3 separate regions of the Homo sapiens genome follow, and regions 1 and 2 are each linked to region 3. The links come from fine-mapping of genetic effects on gene expression. A gene starts in region 3. Each other region holds a variant in brackets. All regions are shown on one strand. Distances are between the middles of the regions. Region 1 overlaps TMCO4 (transmembrane and coiled-coil domains 4). Region 2 overlaps TMCO4 (transmembrane and coiled-coil domains 4). Region 3 holds the start of HTR6 (5-hydroxytryptamine receptor 6).

Evidence for each region.
Region 1: its variant is fine-mapped to the expression of HTR6 in whole blood (INTERVAL, PIP 0.99).
Region 2: its variant is fine-mapped to the expression of HTR6 in whole blood (TOPMed, PIP above 0.99).

Annotation. Positions count from the first base shown.
Region 1 is chr1:19,688,807-19,693,996 of GRCh38, reverse strand. All of the region lies in intron 15 of TMCO4 (transmembrane and coiled-coil domains 4), which reads left to right. Among named protein-coding and RNA genes, the nearest start is that of HTR6, 27 kb to the right of the region's middle. RefSeq lists an enhancer at 4,435-4,949. The variant C/T (reference allele first, on the strand shown) is at 2,295.
Region 2 is chr1:19,721,208-19,726,424 of GRCh38, reverse strand. All of the region lies in intron 13 of TMCO4 (transmembrane and coiled-coil domains 4), which reads left to right. Among named protein-coding and RNA genes, the nearest start is that of HTR6, 59 kb to the right of the region's middle. The variant C/T (reference allele first, on the strand shown) is at 3,271.
Region 3 is chr1:19,662,297-19,667,475 of GRCh38, reverse strand. It overlaps HTR6 (5-hydroxytryptamine receptor 6), which reads right to left and starts at 2,601. Exons shown (of 3, transcript NM_000871.3): 1 at 1,009-2,601. The coding sequence starts at 1,722. RefSeq lists enhancers at 836-1,806, 1,807-2,779 and a silencer at 2,558-2,787.

The DNA of each region.
Region 1 (5,190 bases), 27 kb before region 3:
TATACAACTAGCAATTAACAGGAACAGGATTGGATTTGAACCTCCAGAGCCCTCACTCTTGCTCCTGTATTACTGCCGTTCCCCACTCCCGAGTCCCCCCCACCCAGGGCTCCCCAACAGCCCCATCTCAGCTCACTAGTCAGGACTGTATGTTTCTGCGAGAAGCAGCTGGAGCAAGCAGGGGACACAGGTGGAGGGCTTTAGGCTAGACCAAAAGCAGAAGCACCTGCCTGCTAGGCTGTGGAAAGATGGGATGCAGAGCGGGACATCTGGGGAATCTTTAAAATGCAGAGCCCAGGGCCCCACTGCCCAAAACTTCTACATCAGTCTCTAGGGGCAGAGCCATGAGTCCACATTTTAAACATACTCCTAAGGGTTCCCATGCAGCTAAAACTAGGCTGGGGTGCAGGGGCAGATGGTCAGAAAGAATTCTTGCAGTGAATGGAGTGGGAGGGCACCTGCTGGGCAGCCACACAAACCCAACTTGAATTTCTTTTCTTTTTCTTTTTGTTTTTGTTTGAGATGGGGTCTCACTCTGTTGCCCAGTCTGGAGTGCAATGGTGTGAGCTCACTGCAACCTCCACCTCCCCAGTTCAAGCCATTCTCCTGCCTCAGTGTCCCGAGTAGCGGGGATTACAGGAGCCTGCCACTATGCCCGGCTAATTTTTGTATTTTTAGTAGAGATGGGGTTTCACCATATTACTCAGGCTGGTCTTGAACTCCTGACCTCAGGTGATCTGCCTGCCTCAGCCTCCCAAAGTGCTGGGATTATAGGCATGAGCCACCGTGCCTGGCCTTTTTTTTTTTTTTTTTTTTTTTTTTTTTTTTTTTTGAGATGGGGTCTCGCTCAGGCTGGAGTGCAGTGGCACAGTCTCGGCTCACTGCAACCTCTGCCTCCCAGGCTCTAGTGATCTTCCTGCCCCAGCCTCCTGAGTAGCTGGGACCACAGGTGTGCACCACCACATCTAGCTAATTTTTTGTAGTTTTGGTAGAAACAAGATTTCACCATGTTGCCCAGGCTGGTTTTGAACCCCTGAGCTCAAGCAATCCACCCACCTTGGCCTCCCAGAGTGCTGGGATTACAGGCGTGAGCCACCGTGCCTGACCAACTTCAGTTTTTTTAGACTTGAAAGAACCTCGTTCACCTGCCACATGCTATCCTAGGGAATTAATAGCTTCCCATGTGGACACTCACTCTATGTCCCGCTCTGCCCTAAGCCTATTTATTTATTTGTTTATTTATATTTTTGAGGTGGAGTTTCACTCCTGTTGCCCAGTCTGGAGTGCAATGGCGCGATCTCGGCTCACTGCAACCTCCGCCTCCCAGGTTCAAGCGATTCTCCTGCCTCAGCCTCCCAAATAGCTGGGATTATAGGCGCCTGCCACCACGCCCATCTAATTCTTTTTTTTTTTTTTTTTTTGTATTTTTAATAGAGATATGGTTTCGCCATATTGGTCAGGCTGTTCTCAAACTCCTGACCTCAGGTGATCCACCTGCCTTGGCCTCCCAAAGTGCTGGGATTATAGGCATGAGCCACCACACCCGGCCTGCCCTAAGCCTTTTACAGACATTACTGTCCCCATTGTACAGACAAGGTCACTGAGGCTTAGAGACATTCCAGGGTCACACCGCTGAAACATGGCAAAGCAGGACTCAAACCCAGGTCTGAAGCCAATAGATGTAGCCCCAGCCCAGGTAGATATGAGAACCAGTGGGAGAGGTGCTCCATAGGGGGAGGCGGGGAGGGGAGGAATAAGGAATAAGCTGTAACTACAAGCACAAGCCGACTTCAGCAATCAGGGGACCCTGAGAACAAAATCTTTGGTTTCTAGTTATTATGTTGCTGGCTGCCATTTATCAAGTGCCAAGTGCTTCCCACATGTAACCCAGTGTATTAGTCCATTTTCACGCTGCTGATAAAGACATACCAAGACTGGGTAATTTATAAAGAAAAAGAGGTTTAATGGACTCAATTTCACGTGGCTGGGGAGGCCTCACAATCATGGCGGAAGGTGAAAGGCACGTCTTACATGGCAGCAGGCAAGACAGAGAAGAGAACCAAGTGAAAGGGGTTTCTCCTTATAAAACCATTGGATCTCAGGAGACGTATTCACTACCATGAGAACAGGTTGGGGGAAACCACCCCTATGATTCAATTATCTCCCACTGGGTCCCTCCCACAACACATAGGATTTATGAGAGTACAATTCAAGATGAGATTTGGGTGGGGACACAGTTAAACCATATCACCCAGTTTCCACTCATGGTTGTTTGAGCAGCTGCTTCCTGCAGA[C/T]AGACTAGACTCCTTTCTGGGCATCTAAAAATCCCCTGGTTTGAGGGGCATTCTGGCTTCCCCATTCAGGATCAGCAGCTGCCTGTTCTGATCACTCCACCACTGCATCTCAATGGCCAATGAAGCTAGGCCTCAGACCCACCCGTGCCACCACAGTGTGGCTCACACTGGGCTGCATGTGTTTTGAGACTTGACTGAGCATTTGATAACATGGGGGAATTATTGCACAAAAAAACAAAATCAAAACTTCACCAGGTGCTGCTGTCCATAAAGTCTGTCAGCCATGTCCCTGCCCAGAGGTCACCTGGGCCTCTCACCTGGCCTGACACCAGGTCGCTGGGGCCAGTTCACTTGTATCTTCACCCCTAAACTTCCAGGGCCTTAAGACAAAATTCCTAACCCACCAGAGGATCACAAATGAAGCCACCCTGTGCCTTCCTAACTGGGAGCTTTGGGGACTGGGGTAGAATAAGAGTCATTTCTAGGCTCATCCATTTATGAAACTGGTTGCTCCTGGTTAAAGAGTCTTCACAGGGGCCGGGTGCAGTGACTCACGCCTGTAATCCCAGCACTTTGGGAGGCCAAGGCGGGCAGATCACGAGGTCAGGAGATCGAGACCATCCTGGCTAACACAGTGAAACTCCGTCTCTACTAAAAATACAAAAAATTAGCCAGGTGTGGCGGTGGGCACCTGTAGTCCCAGCTACTCGGGAGGCTGAGGCAGGAGAATGGCATGACCCCAGGAGGTGGAGCTTGCAGTGAGCCGAGAGGGTACCACTGCACTCCAGCCTAGGTGACAGAGCAAGACTCTGTTTCAAAAAAAAAAAAAAAAAAAAGAGTCTTCACAGATAGACTTGGCTCACATGCTGTAAACCTCGCAACTCCCTAGAGGAGGTATTAAGCATCCCCAGATCATAGATTGGGAAACTGAGACTTGGGAGCATGGAGTCATAGCCAGAGTTGTAGGTCTGGACTCTGAGCCCAGCTTGGAAGCTGTGCTGCCCACTTCTCTGTGGGAATGAGGTAAGCTGAGTCACAAGACCAGCAAACCACAGTGACAGGAATTTTCTCTCAGCCCCTTGGCCACACTTGCAGCAGGGGCACCCCATCTACTCGGTCCACCACACTCAGCCCCTTGCAGGAGGAAGCACATGAATGAGCAAGTGTGGGCTCTGGCTGACCACTCCAAACACCGACACAAGAGCAAGCTCCATGCTGGGCCTGTGGCCAGACCAGGCGTGTTGCCTCGAGGGGAAAGTGGCAGCACCTGGGCAGGGGTACCCACAACCCTGAAGCCCCAGAGGGGGCGTTAGTGTGCTAATTAGCTGTTTTAGTTCCACCATTGACGGCCCAATAGACGGTGGTGTATTAACAGCTCAGTCGGCCCCTGACCCCATCACGTGGGGCAGCTGCCCTCCACTGATGAGGGCAAAAGGCCAGTATGACAGCCTTTCTGGGTACCCACACTCAGTGGGTCCCAAGCTCTTGTCCAGCATCCAAGAAGAATGAGGACACGCTGATAATTGAAGAGTGAGCAAGGCGAGGAGTTTTATTGAGTGATGAAACAGCTTTTTGCAGAGAGGGGATGAGTGGATGGTTCCCCTACCCAAAGGCAGGAAAGTCCCCACAATGTGGCTGAGTCTGGGGCTTTTATGGGCTCAGAATAGGGGAAGTGTGGGCAAACAGGAACAGAAGTTCTCACTCTGGGTCACAGGTTTCATGTGGGACCAGCAGTCCAGTCTTTCAGCCTTCAGGCTGTTTTTTTGGCTTGAAGGTGGGGTTTCACCAGGGACCCACCCCGTCTGCCTAGGCATTTGGCTGCCTCCTGTCACCATCAACAGGGCTCAGAGCTGATGCCTCCTGACCCATGTCCAGGGCTCTCTGTCCTATTCAAGGTGCCTGCACCCTGAATGGGGTGAAAGGGAGCAGGGACTTTGTGCCTCAGCACCCCAGGAGTCTCCCTTTGCCAGAAGAATCAGAGATAAAAAGCATCTGCTGAAGAAAGTAGCTTTTAATGCTGCAAAGCCCTCACAAGATCTGATTTCTACTGGGAATGGGATATGGTAGGAAGAGCACAGCCTTTGGCACCAGAGAGGCATGGCTTAGAATCCTGGCTCTGCCACTGGTTTACTGGCTGTGTGACCTTGGGCCAGTTACTTAACCTCTCTGTGTCTCAGTGTCCTCATCTAGGAAATGGTGGAAACGCCTAACTTCCAGGGCAGCGCATGTAAGATGCTTGGTGCATAGTAGGCCCTCCTTTAATCCTAGTCCCTCCCGGCCTGCCCCTGCCACCACCCCCAGTTTGTTTGCCTCTGGGACCAGCAGTTTTGGAGACTCCGCTCCCTCCTCAGGCTGTCTTCGTGGCAGCTTCCCAGCTCCTGCCTAATAATAGCTCTTTATCACATTAGGAGTACATCACAAAAAACAGTGCTTTCCTCTTCTGGGTAATTAGAGGTAATTAGCACTGCCTTTGTGCTGGCCTCCTGTTTTCCTTGAAAATGCTTTGCTGGAGAAGTTGCTGGCAAGGGAGGTTTCATTACTGCTGTTGGGGAAATGCTGGCCACCCTCTGCTCCCAACAGAGACCCACAGGACCTGTCTTCTCCCTGCTGGGCCAACCACGCAGCAGGGCCCTTTGTGATCATCCCACTGGGCTGGCCCTGTTGCAGGCAGGGCGCATCTCTGGGGTGAATGAAGCTGCCCTCCTGCCCCTCAGTCTCTCCTCACAGGGACAAGGTTACAGTGGGTGGGGGATTTGCCACCCCAGGGACCAACTCATGAGGCTTCTGGGGCACAGAGATCCAACCCACGGCAAGATTCTCCATGTCCCAGCAGAAATGCCAGGTGGCCTAGAACTTAGCAAAAGGCTTGGCACAAAGTAGATACTTGATAATAACC
Region 2 (5,217 bases), 59 kb before region 3:
TGGCACGACCTCGGCTCACTGCAACCTCCACCTCCCAGGTTTAAGCTCAGAGAGCCGAAGGGATTTGCCCAGAGTCAGAGCTGGAAGGTGGCCGAGCCAGGCATCACACCCAGGGCCATCACCCACACCTGGGTCATGGCACTGTGTTCAGCTGCCTCCCTGCTCCCTCTCAGTGCTTTGCCCATCTTTGTTTCCAAGCTCACCACGTTGGGTTACAATGCATCTGCCCACAGGTCTCTCTCCCCTGCTAGAATGTGGCTGATGCTTAAAGGGAAAACACACACTCACGATCACCAGGCACTGTCTGTTTTGTCCCCTCTGTGTCACCAGCCCCTGGCTCAGGCCTTGGCATGTAGAGGTGCCCAGTACATGTTAGGAGCTGATTCACTCGTGAGGGACACAAAGGCAGCCATGAAGTTTGCTGTGAGGGCTTCTTGCAGGGGACCATGCTCGAGGCCTTTGGGTGCGGCAAGGCTCGAACTGCCTTGGCAAAGTGGACTCCTCAGCCCCCAAGGCCTGGGCCAGCTGGTTGATCTATTGCCCAGACTTCCCAGTGACCACGCTGTGCTCGGCCCGCTCCATTCCAGACTGTCCATCGGGCTTGATCGGCTGGCACACACACACAGCCTGGGTAACGACTCTGCCCACTCAAAACCAAGACAAAACATGCACCTGCCAAATGATTGTGCCTTTGGTCAGGAAACCAGCATAGTCAGAATTCCTAGCAATGAACAATCCCCCTCTAGCAACAGTCCAAGTCCCAGCATAGGGCATGAATTTGCTTTGGGAGTGACTGACCCTGTCCCCAAGGGTATTTCTGACCCCAGTGCGTGCCAAGGGCAGGGAGGTGGTGCCTGCTGCCAGGAACAGCCAGCATCTGAGCACTCACTATGGGACCCTGGGCCCTGATCACAAGGGGGCATTCATCTTTTCTATATTTTTGCTTTTAAAAGTCTTTGAAAAATTAAGTAGTTGGAAAGCAAACTCAATTCCAACTGACTTGTAGTAGCTGGCTGAGCTGAGAAATGGCCATAGGAAATCAATTGCTGCTTCAGGTTATTTATGCATTTATTCTCCTCTGCATCCAAAAGGCTTTGAAGGGAATTAATTCAACATATTGCATATTGCCTGTGACCTGTGGGCCTGTCCATGCAGTTGACAAGACACGCTGAGCTGAGCCAGCCTGCCTGCAGGTGTCTTCATTCAGCACCATAGAGGCTGCAGGACCTGCTTCACTCTGGGCCCTAGGGTCCATTAGTCAATCCTGGCTTCCCCATCTGTTTGCCATCTGTAAGCGGGCTCAATTTGATCACTTTTCCTAGTGTCTTCAAGATGCAAGGATCATTGCAACCAGCTGAGAATGACATGAAAGAAGGAGCACTCACACCTGTAATCCCAGCACTTTGGGAGGCCGAGGCGGGTGCATCACGAGGTCAGGAGATTGAGACCATCCTGGCCAACATGGTGAAACCCCGTCTCTACTTAAAATACAAAAATTAGCTGGGTATTGTGGTGTGCGCCTGTAGTCCCAGCTACTCAGGAGGCTGAGGCAGGAGAATTGCTTGAACCTGGGAGGCGGAGGTTGCAGTGAGCAGAGATTGTGCCACTGCACTCCAGCCTGGGTGACAGAGCAAGACTCCATCTCAAAAAAGAAAAAAGAAAAACAAAAGAAGGAGCACTGAACTTAGAGTCTAGAAACATCAGTTCAAACCCAGACTCCACTAGTTACTGTCTGGGTACCCTTGGGCAAGTCACTTCACCTGTCTGGGCTTCAGACTAATTAGTAAAATTGGGATATTGATCCCTCTGGGGGTTATTCTAGGATTTAATAACTACCATTTATTGAACACCTACTATATGCCAAGTGATATGCTAAGGGCTTTGCCTGTTTTCCCTCATCTAATATACAAACAACTCTAAGATATAGTTATTGATTTTCCCATTTTGCCTATAAGGAGATTGATGGCAGGGACTGTGTCCATTTCATTCTGCCCTCTGTCATCGGCACCTAGCATGGGACTTGGCACAGCAAAGAGCTGCAGCAATTTACAAATAGTGAACCTGGGTTCAACTCCAGCCTGTCCAACCACAAAGCTGGCCTTTTTATATGGTGGATGTAACAGCACAATGCTTGGCACATAGTAGACTCCCAACAAGTAAGTGTTCCTTTCTTATTCTCCATTAGTTTATCCAAATGGATTTTTCCAAGGCTATGGTACTCACTGTCTCTGAGCTCACTAATGTAGCAGTAATGTCTTTAGCCCAACTGGCAGCTCTCAGGGGAGTGAGTTACAGAAGTGGGATTCATTTAATCTGTGCTTTAATCTAAACTAAAGGCCGACCAGCCCCCAGGCTCTTTCCAAGACTCTTAGCCTGCCGACTGCCTTTCAAAGACATTTGCTTCCCTCTGGGAATGCAGGCACCCTTGACCTTAGCAGTTGCCACCGGCTAAAATGCATTTGATCTCACCTTGAATGTGGGTTGTCTCTGTTATTTAAAGAAGGCAGGAATTTGGGGGCTTGCTCCAGCCTCGCCTCTGGGGTCAGACCTCTCTGCTTCACTGTTAACCCACAGGGCATTGTCACCAGGTGACCCGCTTCACCCTCCTCTCACAGATTGGCCACCAGCCCCCATTGTCTACTAGATAAATCCACTTAGCTTCCAGGGCCCCAGCTCAGAGCTGGAAGAGCCTCCAGAAATCACATTGTCCAAACCTTCAATTTACAGGTGAGGAAAGGAGACCAAGAGGGTCTGCACCCTGAAACGCAGTGATGATTGGTGTTGGTGTTGGAAGTTGGTTGCTGTGACTGGAGGAATCCAGAAATGCCCAAATACTAGCCTTGGAAATTACTTCCTTCTTCCCACAGGGTCCCTGAGAGAGCTGAGCATGCAGACTTTAGCTACATGATGACTGGGGCACCCATCACTTCAACGCCACCTAAGCTAGGACCCAGTAACCCCCAGGGAAGAAGCTGTGCTGGTCACACAGCAGGCTCAGCCACCCAAAAGCTCCAGCCCTGGATCTGGGGGCCTATGGGGTCCTGGCCAGTGGCATCGAAGGAGAAAGGAGGCAGGAAGACAAAGAAGAGACTATCCCCCATATGAGATGAATACAAGTTGGGCATCCCAAATCCAAAAATTCAAAATCCAAAATGCTCCAGATTCCAAAACTTTTTGAGCAGCAACATGATACTCCGAGGAAATGCTCAATGCAGCATTTCAGATTTTCGGATTTGGGATGCTCAACCAATAAGAATAATGCAAATATTC[C/T]AAAATCTGAAATCCAAAATACTTCTGGTCCCACGCATTTCAGATAAGGGCCAGAGAGAGAGAAGGTGGCCCTAACCTCCTCCAGCGACTTGCCTTGCTCAGAGGAGGGAGGAGAGCCTGCAGTCCGGCTTCCTGATGTACAGCAACCTGCCCACTAGTACATGTGTCCCATCAGTGTCCTCACGCTTGACTAATGAGGCCAGCACCCCCTCTTCCCATAGGAGCAATAGGAGGAGGCCTGGGAAGAAGGTGGGCAGAGAGAAACACAGGCACGGAAGGAGGAGAGGCTGAGGATCACAGTGTTCCTGCCGCTGACACTGGATGCACCCCCCAGCCCCCTTGCCCCAGGGTCAGAGCTTGTGCCAGACATCCCACCACCTCCAGACCAGCAGCGCTCCCTTGGAACCAGGGAAACCCTTGTACAAAAGTGCCCCAGGGGTTCTTTCTTCCAGGACTGTGTCTCCCTAGCCTGTCTTTCCTACCACCTGCTGTAGCCATTTGCAGACACACTTTCTACTCCTAAACTATAAAGTATATGCAGAGTAAAGAGTTGGGTGCTCATAATTACCCAGAAGGCCACAATTCTCCATGCCATGAGGTTAAGATCATGGGAACGGTATGACCCTGTGCAAGTCCCCTACATTCTTCAAGTTTTCCTTATTATTAATGTAGATCAAACGATACCCACCTCTTAAGGAAAATAAAATAGCGCATCTAAGCTCTTAGCACAGAGCCTGGCACATAGTACATACTGAGTGATTGGCTAAGACTGTTGTACAGTAGGTGGCTTGCAGCCTTGAGAGCATTGACTCCTGTAAAGGGCACTTAACACTCAGTTGAAGGATAATGATCCAGAAGGCACTGCTAGAACATCTTATCGAGGCTGATATGCTGGGCCTCATTTCATTCTTTCGTCCCATGAGCATGTGATTGTGGACTCCTAGACTCAGGGTTCCAAAAGACGTTTGAAATCGTCTGGTTCAAACAAACCTCCACACTGTACAGGATCCCCTTGACATCATCCATCTGTCTACTAGCCTCTGCTTAGTTGCTTCTAGTGATAGGAAACGGACTACTCTGCGAAGGGTAGTAAGTCAGGAATTTAGAGGACTGATCAATTTAATCATGGAGTCAGTTGCTTGTAAATTGTGAAACATCAAGCCCTGCCCAGAGAATCTGTTAAGGCTATTGGTGTTTGAATGTGCAATGAGATGAGCCATGTCCAGGGAGGCCGCTGGCCCCTCAGATAGAGTCCCAAGGTTAGTAGTACCTGGAAGGTCAGTATATTTCCAGGTTTGGCCCTGGACTTTTCCAAAACGTGTGTGTGTGTGTGTTGTGTTTTGTTTTGTTTTGTTTTGTTTTGTTTGAGACAGGGTCTCCCTCTGTCACCCAGGCTGGAGTGCGGTGGCACAATTTCAACTCACTGCAGCCTCTTTCCCCTGGGCCCAAGCCATCCTCCCACCTCAGCCTCCCAAGTAGCTGGGACTACAGGCATGTGCCACCATGCCTGACTCATTTTTGCATTTTTTGAAGAGACAGGGTTTCGCCATGTTGCCTAGACTGGTCTCGAACTCCTGAGCTTGAGCGATCCACTCACCTCGGCCTCCCAAAGTGCTAGGATTACAGGCATGAGCCCCCGCGCCTGGCCACTAAATATAATTTTTATCTATTTTGCACCCAGAGCTGAGCAGTCCCACTAGGAAAACTCACAGGAGACAGTGTTGCAAACTGAATCCTGCTTTCTCGAGGTCCAGCACTAACTGCCACTCTCAAGCAATGGAGCACGTGCCCACACTGTCTGCCTAAGCTCCAGGGAAACAAATTCTCTGCTGAAGTTTCTGTGGTGAGCACAGGTGTATATGGAGAGAATAGTCTGCAGGAGCGTATCTTTTCCTGGCCCTCACAGTGAGCCCTGATGGCTGTCTGAGTCTCAGAAGGAGATCCCCT
Region 3 (5,179 bases):
CCACTGCCCTCCAGCCTGGGCAACAGAGCGAGACTCCGTCTCAAAAAAAACAAAAACAAAAACAAAAAAAAAAGCAAAAAAACTGATCTCAATATGTGTGACCCTCCTGGAGCTTATATTCAAGTCAGGGAGGCAAAATGAACAAGTCATTTTTATGACTTGTTCTTATGGAGAATAACAGGGATGGAGAGTGCAGATGGGCCTGCAGATAGGGTGGTCAAAGATGGCCCCTGGGAAGAAGGCAGCCGGGGGAAGAACATTCCAGGCACAGGGAACAGCAAGTGCAAAGACCTGGGCACAGAAGTAAGCCCAGTGCCTTCTAGAACCGTGAGAAAGGCCACAAGGCTGTTGCAGAGTAAGAGAGAGGGAGAGGGGAGGTGACACTGGAGAGGATGGCAGTGTGGGATCCTGAGGCCAGATCCTGAGACAGGTTTTCTTTATCTGGAGCACGGTGGGAAGCCTGAAGAGTCTGAAGCAGGGGAGTGACATGATCACTTCTTTTTTAAGTGCTCCAGCTTCTATGCAGAAGATGGAGAGTACTGGGTCTGCGGCAGAAGCAGGGGAGCCAGGAGAAGTCTACACAGCCTCCCCGGTAGGAAGTGGCAGGGGAGATGGCACCTGTTTAGAGCAGCGCCAACAGGTCTCGCTAATGAATGGCATGAGGGTGAGGGAGAAAAGTATTCCTAAGTTCCTGGCATGTGATGCCGCAATGGTGCCATTTGCCATGATGGGGAAGACCAGGGAGGCAAAGATGGGGAGAGTTGGGCCACCATAAATTCCCTGTTGTACATGGTACCTGGGAGAAGCCTGCCCCCAAATCCTGACGGAGCTATCCTGTGGTGGGTGGGTCAGGCATTGGCTCTGGAGTTCAGAAGAAAGGTGGGCGCTCACAACAGCCACGCAGGGCCATGAGCAAATGTGTGCTAAGTGGGGATGCCCAGGGGGTCCCCAGGGGCTGCTCATTCCTCTCTATCCCACAGCCCGGGTCTCCCTGCGCACCCCAGGTACCTGCAGCGTCTCCGAGGCCTGACTGGCCATGCCGGTGGTGAGGGAGGCCACCTGCACGGCCTGCTTGCGGGCAGCTAGCAGGATCCTGCAGTAGGTGAAGCATATGGCACCCGAGGGCAGGAAGAAGGTGAGGCCCGACGCCACAAGGACAAAAGGCAGGCTGGCCAGCAGGCGGCACTGGCCAGGGACGGGTGGCCGTGCGTGGCCCAGCTCGTGCCAGCCCAGCAGCAGGGGCAGGAAGGAGGCGAGAGCGGCGAGGCTCCAGGCGCCCAGGACTAGGGCCAGGGCACGCAGGGGCGTCATGCGCAGCTTGTAGCGCAGCGGCGAGAGGATGAGCAGGTAGCGGTCCAGGCTGATGAGGCAGAGGTTGAGGATGGAGGCGCTGCAGCACATCACGTCGAAGGCGGTCCAGAGCAGGCAGAGGCCGCGCGCCAGCACCCAGCGCCCGTACAGCGCGTTCAGCATGGCCGGCGGCATCACCACCAGCCCCACCATCAGGTCAGACGTGAAGAGCGACACCAGGAAGAAGTTGGACGTGTTGCGCAGCGCGGGCTGAGTGCAGATGAGCGCGATCAGCAGCGAGTTGGCCGCCGCCGTCAGCGCGATGACCACGCACAGCGCGGCCGCCACCCAGCCGCTGCCCCCCGGGGCCGACGGCGGCCCTGCCCCCCAGGCCGGGGTGCTATTGGCGGTTGGGCCCGGCTCTGGGACCATGAGGACCGAGGGTGGACGGCAAGGGAGTGATAGGGTGGCGGGAAAGCAGATGAGGGCCCCGGCGAAGCGCAGGCTGGACGGGGACCGTCCGTGAGAACAGACCGCGACTCACCACGCCCCCCGGGGGAGGTGAGTGGGGGGACATGGGCGGGGGCGCTGGGTCGCGCTAGGTCAGGGGGCAGCGACTACAGGAGGACACAGTGTGGCTATTTGGGCGCCCTCGGGGATGGGGCAGGAACTCCTGGAGCAAACGGGTTGGAAGTTTGGGGAGGGGCACCCGATGAGCCGAGGCCCCTGAAGGAAGCGGCGGGAAGTCAAGCAGAGGTCGGATGGGCTCCCTGGGGTGGGAGCAGAGCCCCCTGGAGGGGGCGGGCGGCAAGATAGGGGAGGGGCGTCCGGCCGGGTCAGAGTGCGGGGAAGTGGGAACGCGGGGAGGTGGGTGAGGGGGGTGAATGGGCGCTCTCGGGCCGGAGCAGGCTCCCCGCGGCCGGTGGGCGTGTGGGGTACCAGGGCGGGGGCCTAGGGGCCGGAGCAAAGCCGCCCCTGGGAAAGGCAGGTCTCAGCTGGCGCGGAGGCACCGGGATCCGGCGCACACGGCCTGTGCGGCGCGGGGGTTCGCCGGGGCCGCCAGGCCCCGCGGGAAGAGGAGGGCAGCGGCCGCGCGGCGCCCCCTCCCCACCCGGCAGCAGGGTCGCCTCCGTCTCCCGCCCGCACTGGTACCTGGGGCGCTCTGGCTGCTCCGCCGCCTGCGACTGCGGCAAGCGCCGCGGGGCTGCGAGAGGAAGAGGCGGCCGCGGGCCGGGCGGGCGGCGGGACCGGGTCTCCCGAGCCCGGGAGGCGCCGCGAGGGGCCCGCACGCGCGGAGGAGAGGCCGGGTGCAGCCTGGAGCGCGCGGTCCCCGCGCCGCGGAGCGTGCGCCCCGCCTCGCGGTGGGCGGGGAGAGCCGAGCCCTGGCCCTGCAGGAGGGCGGGGTCCCGGCACCCCGGGCCTGTGGGCCGAAGATCAGAGCGCCCCAGCTGCGAGGGGTCACCTCCCGGGCTGTGGCAGCCCCCACACCCTCAGATGCCCCTCCCAACCCACACGTGGCGGCGGCGCAGGCGGAACTGGGAGCAGGGGGCTGTGACCTGCCCTTATCCAGGGGCTGCTCTCTAATGGGTGCCTGCCCACTCACAACGGGGTCACCGGGCTTTCAGGGGAGCCAGGAGTTGGGAAATATTGGACAAATCGCCTGACACCCCTCTGGGCCTCAGTTGCCATATCTGTAAAATGGGTTAGTAATTCTGGGCATTCTTCACCGTTAGTTTGAGCAAGAAGCTAACCTTCCCCAGGGCCTTTCCCGCAGAAACCATCCCGATCCCCAAAGGGGCCAGGTACTAAGGATGAAGTCCCTGAGCTGTTGGCGCTCCTAGTCTAACAGAGCGTGAACAGATTTGAGAATCCCCAGGCCAGGTGTGTTAAGAGTCGCTGCAGGCAGAGGCGTGGGGTGTGGTTTCCCCTGGGTGTGACCTCCCTCTGTACGTCTCCCCTCTGGCTGAGAAGAGTCTCTGCCTAACACTGCTGTGCAGGTTAATACTGTTATTCATTCATTCATTGAACAGATACTTCAATGCATCTTTTAAGGCGCATCCACTAGATGTCAGGCACTGTTCTGACCCATCAGGACACTACAGTGGCCAAAACAAAGATCCGCACCTCCATGGAGCTTACATTCTAGTGGAAGAAACAGACAATAAACAATAAGCATAATCAACAGAGAAAGTGGGCCCAGCGAGGTGGCTCACGCCTGTAATCCCAGCACTTTGGGAGGCGGAGGTGGGCAGATCACCTGAGGTCAGGAGTTCGAGACCAGCCTGACCAACATGGTAAAACCCCGTCTCTATCAAAAATACAAAAATTAGCTGGGCGTGGTGGCGGGAGCCTGTAATCCCAGCTATTCGGGAGGCTGAGGCAGGAGAATTGCTTGAACCTGGGAGGCAGAGGTTCCAGTGAGCCAAGATTGTGCCACTGCACACTCCAGCCTGGGTGACAGAGCAAGACTCTGTCAAAAAAAAAAAAAAAAAAAAAAAAAAAAAGGAAAGAAAGAAAGAGAGAAAGGAAAGAAAGAGAAAGAAAGAAGAGAAAGAGAAAAAGAAAATGTAGTATAAAGAGAACGGGGTGGGATCATTTTTTCTCCACAGAAACAGAAAAATAATACTTTCCAAATCGAAGGCTCCTGCGCTGTCCCCAGGGGCTTTGTTGTACGGTTCCTACTCCTCCAGTTATTTATTCCGACCCCTACAATAATGCTGAGAGGTAGACGTTAAACTGGGGTTCAGAGAGGCCAAGGGCCTTGCCCCAGATCACCAGCAGCAAGTGGTGAAGTGGACCTGAAACCCAGATCTGCTCGATGCCCATGGCAAAGAGAGCCCATTACAGATGGTCAAAAACCTCCCCTCAGGCACCTCAGAGCCTGCAGCACCCACCCGCCAACTCTAAGCTGCTATTTGGTGCTCAGAGCCCCAGCCTTGCCCACAGAAGCATCTTTTAAGCAGATAGAGGAGGCCTGTCCTTCCTCCTTGCCACCACACTGCACCACTGTGACGATTTCTGCCATGCCCCCAAGGAACAGAACGTAGTACAGCAAGCCTGGGCAGAGAGTCAGAAACACATGGCTTGGGATCCCCGCTCCATCCCAGCTCTGGGATTACAGGGCCAGTGGCTCCATCTCCTTGGGTCACAGCTTTCTCTTCTGTAATAGTTAGCAGAACAATATGGCACCCACCTCACAGAGTAGCTGAGGGGATTAAATGACACTGATGTAATCTGTGTCTTTGATACTATGTTAACACTAGCTGGCCGGGCACAGTGGCTCACGCCTGTAATCCCAACACTTTGGGAGGCCAAGGCGGGCAGATCACCTGAGGTCAGGAGTTCGAGACCAGCCTGGTCAATATGATGAAACCCCGTCTCTACTAAAAATACAAAATTAGCCAGGTGTAGTGATGCACGCCCATAATCCCAGCTACTCAGGAGGCTGAGGCAGGAGAATCACTTGAACCCACAAGGCAGAGGTTGCAGTGAGCTGAGATCACACCACTGCACTCTAGCCTGGGCAAAAACAGCGAAACTCCATCTAAAAAAAAAAAAAACAAAAAAACAAAAAAACAAAAAAAAAACCTAGCTCTTGGCTTTAGTGTTCCCATCAGCACAATCGTAATGCATTCAGCTCTGTGCTAACTCCTTGAGCCCAGGGATTTCTGACGTGAACAGCTGCAACCCTGAGAGGTGCTGTGTGGAAGGATTTTGGAGCCCAGCATCCTGGGTTCATCATCCAGAGTCTGCCACTTGCTCTGTGAAGTTGTGCAAAGCCTCTTAAATTCTCTGCTGCTATGAAACCAAGGCAGTGGAGCTGTGAATGAGATGAGTAAAAAATTTTGCCTGATAAATGTTGCTTTGTAAAAATCTGTAGGTAGTGCAT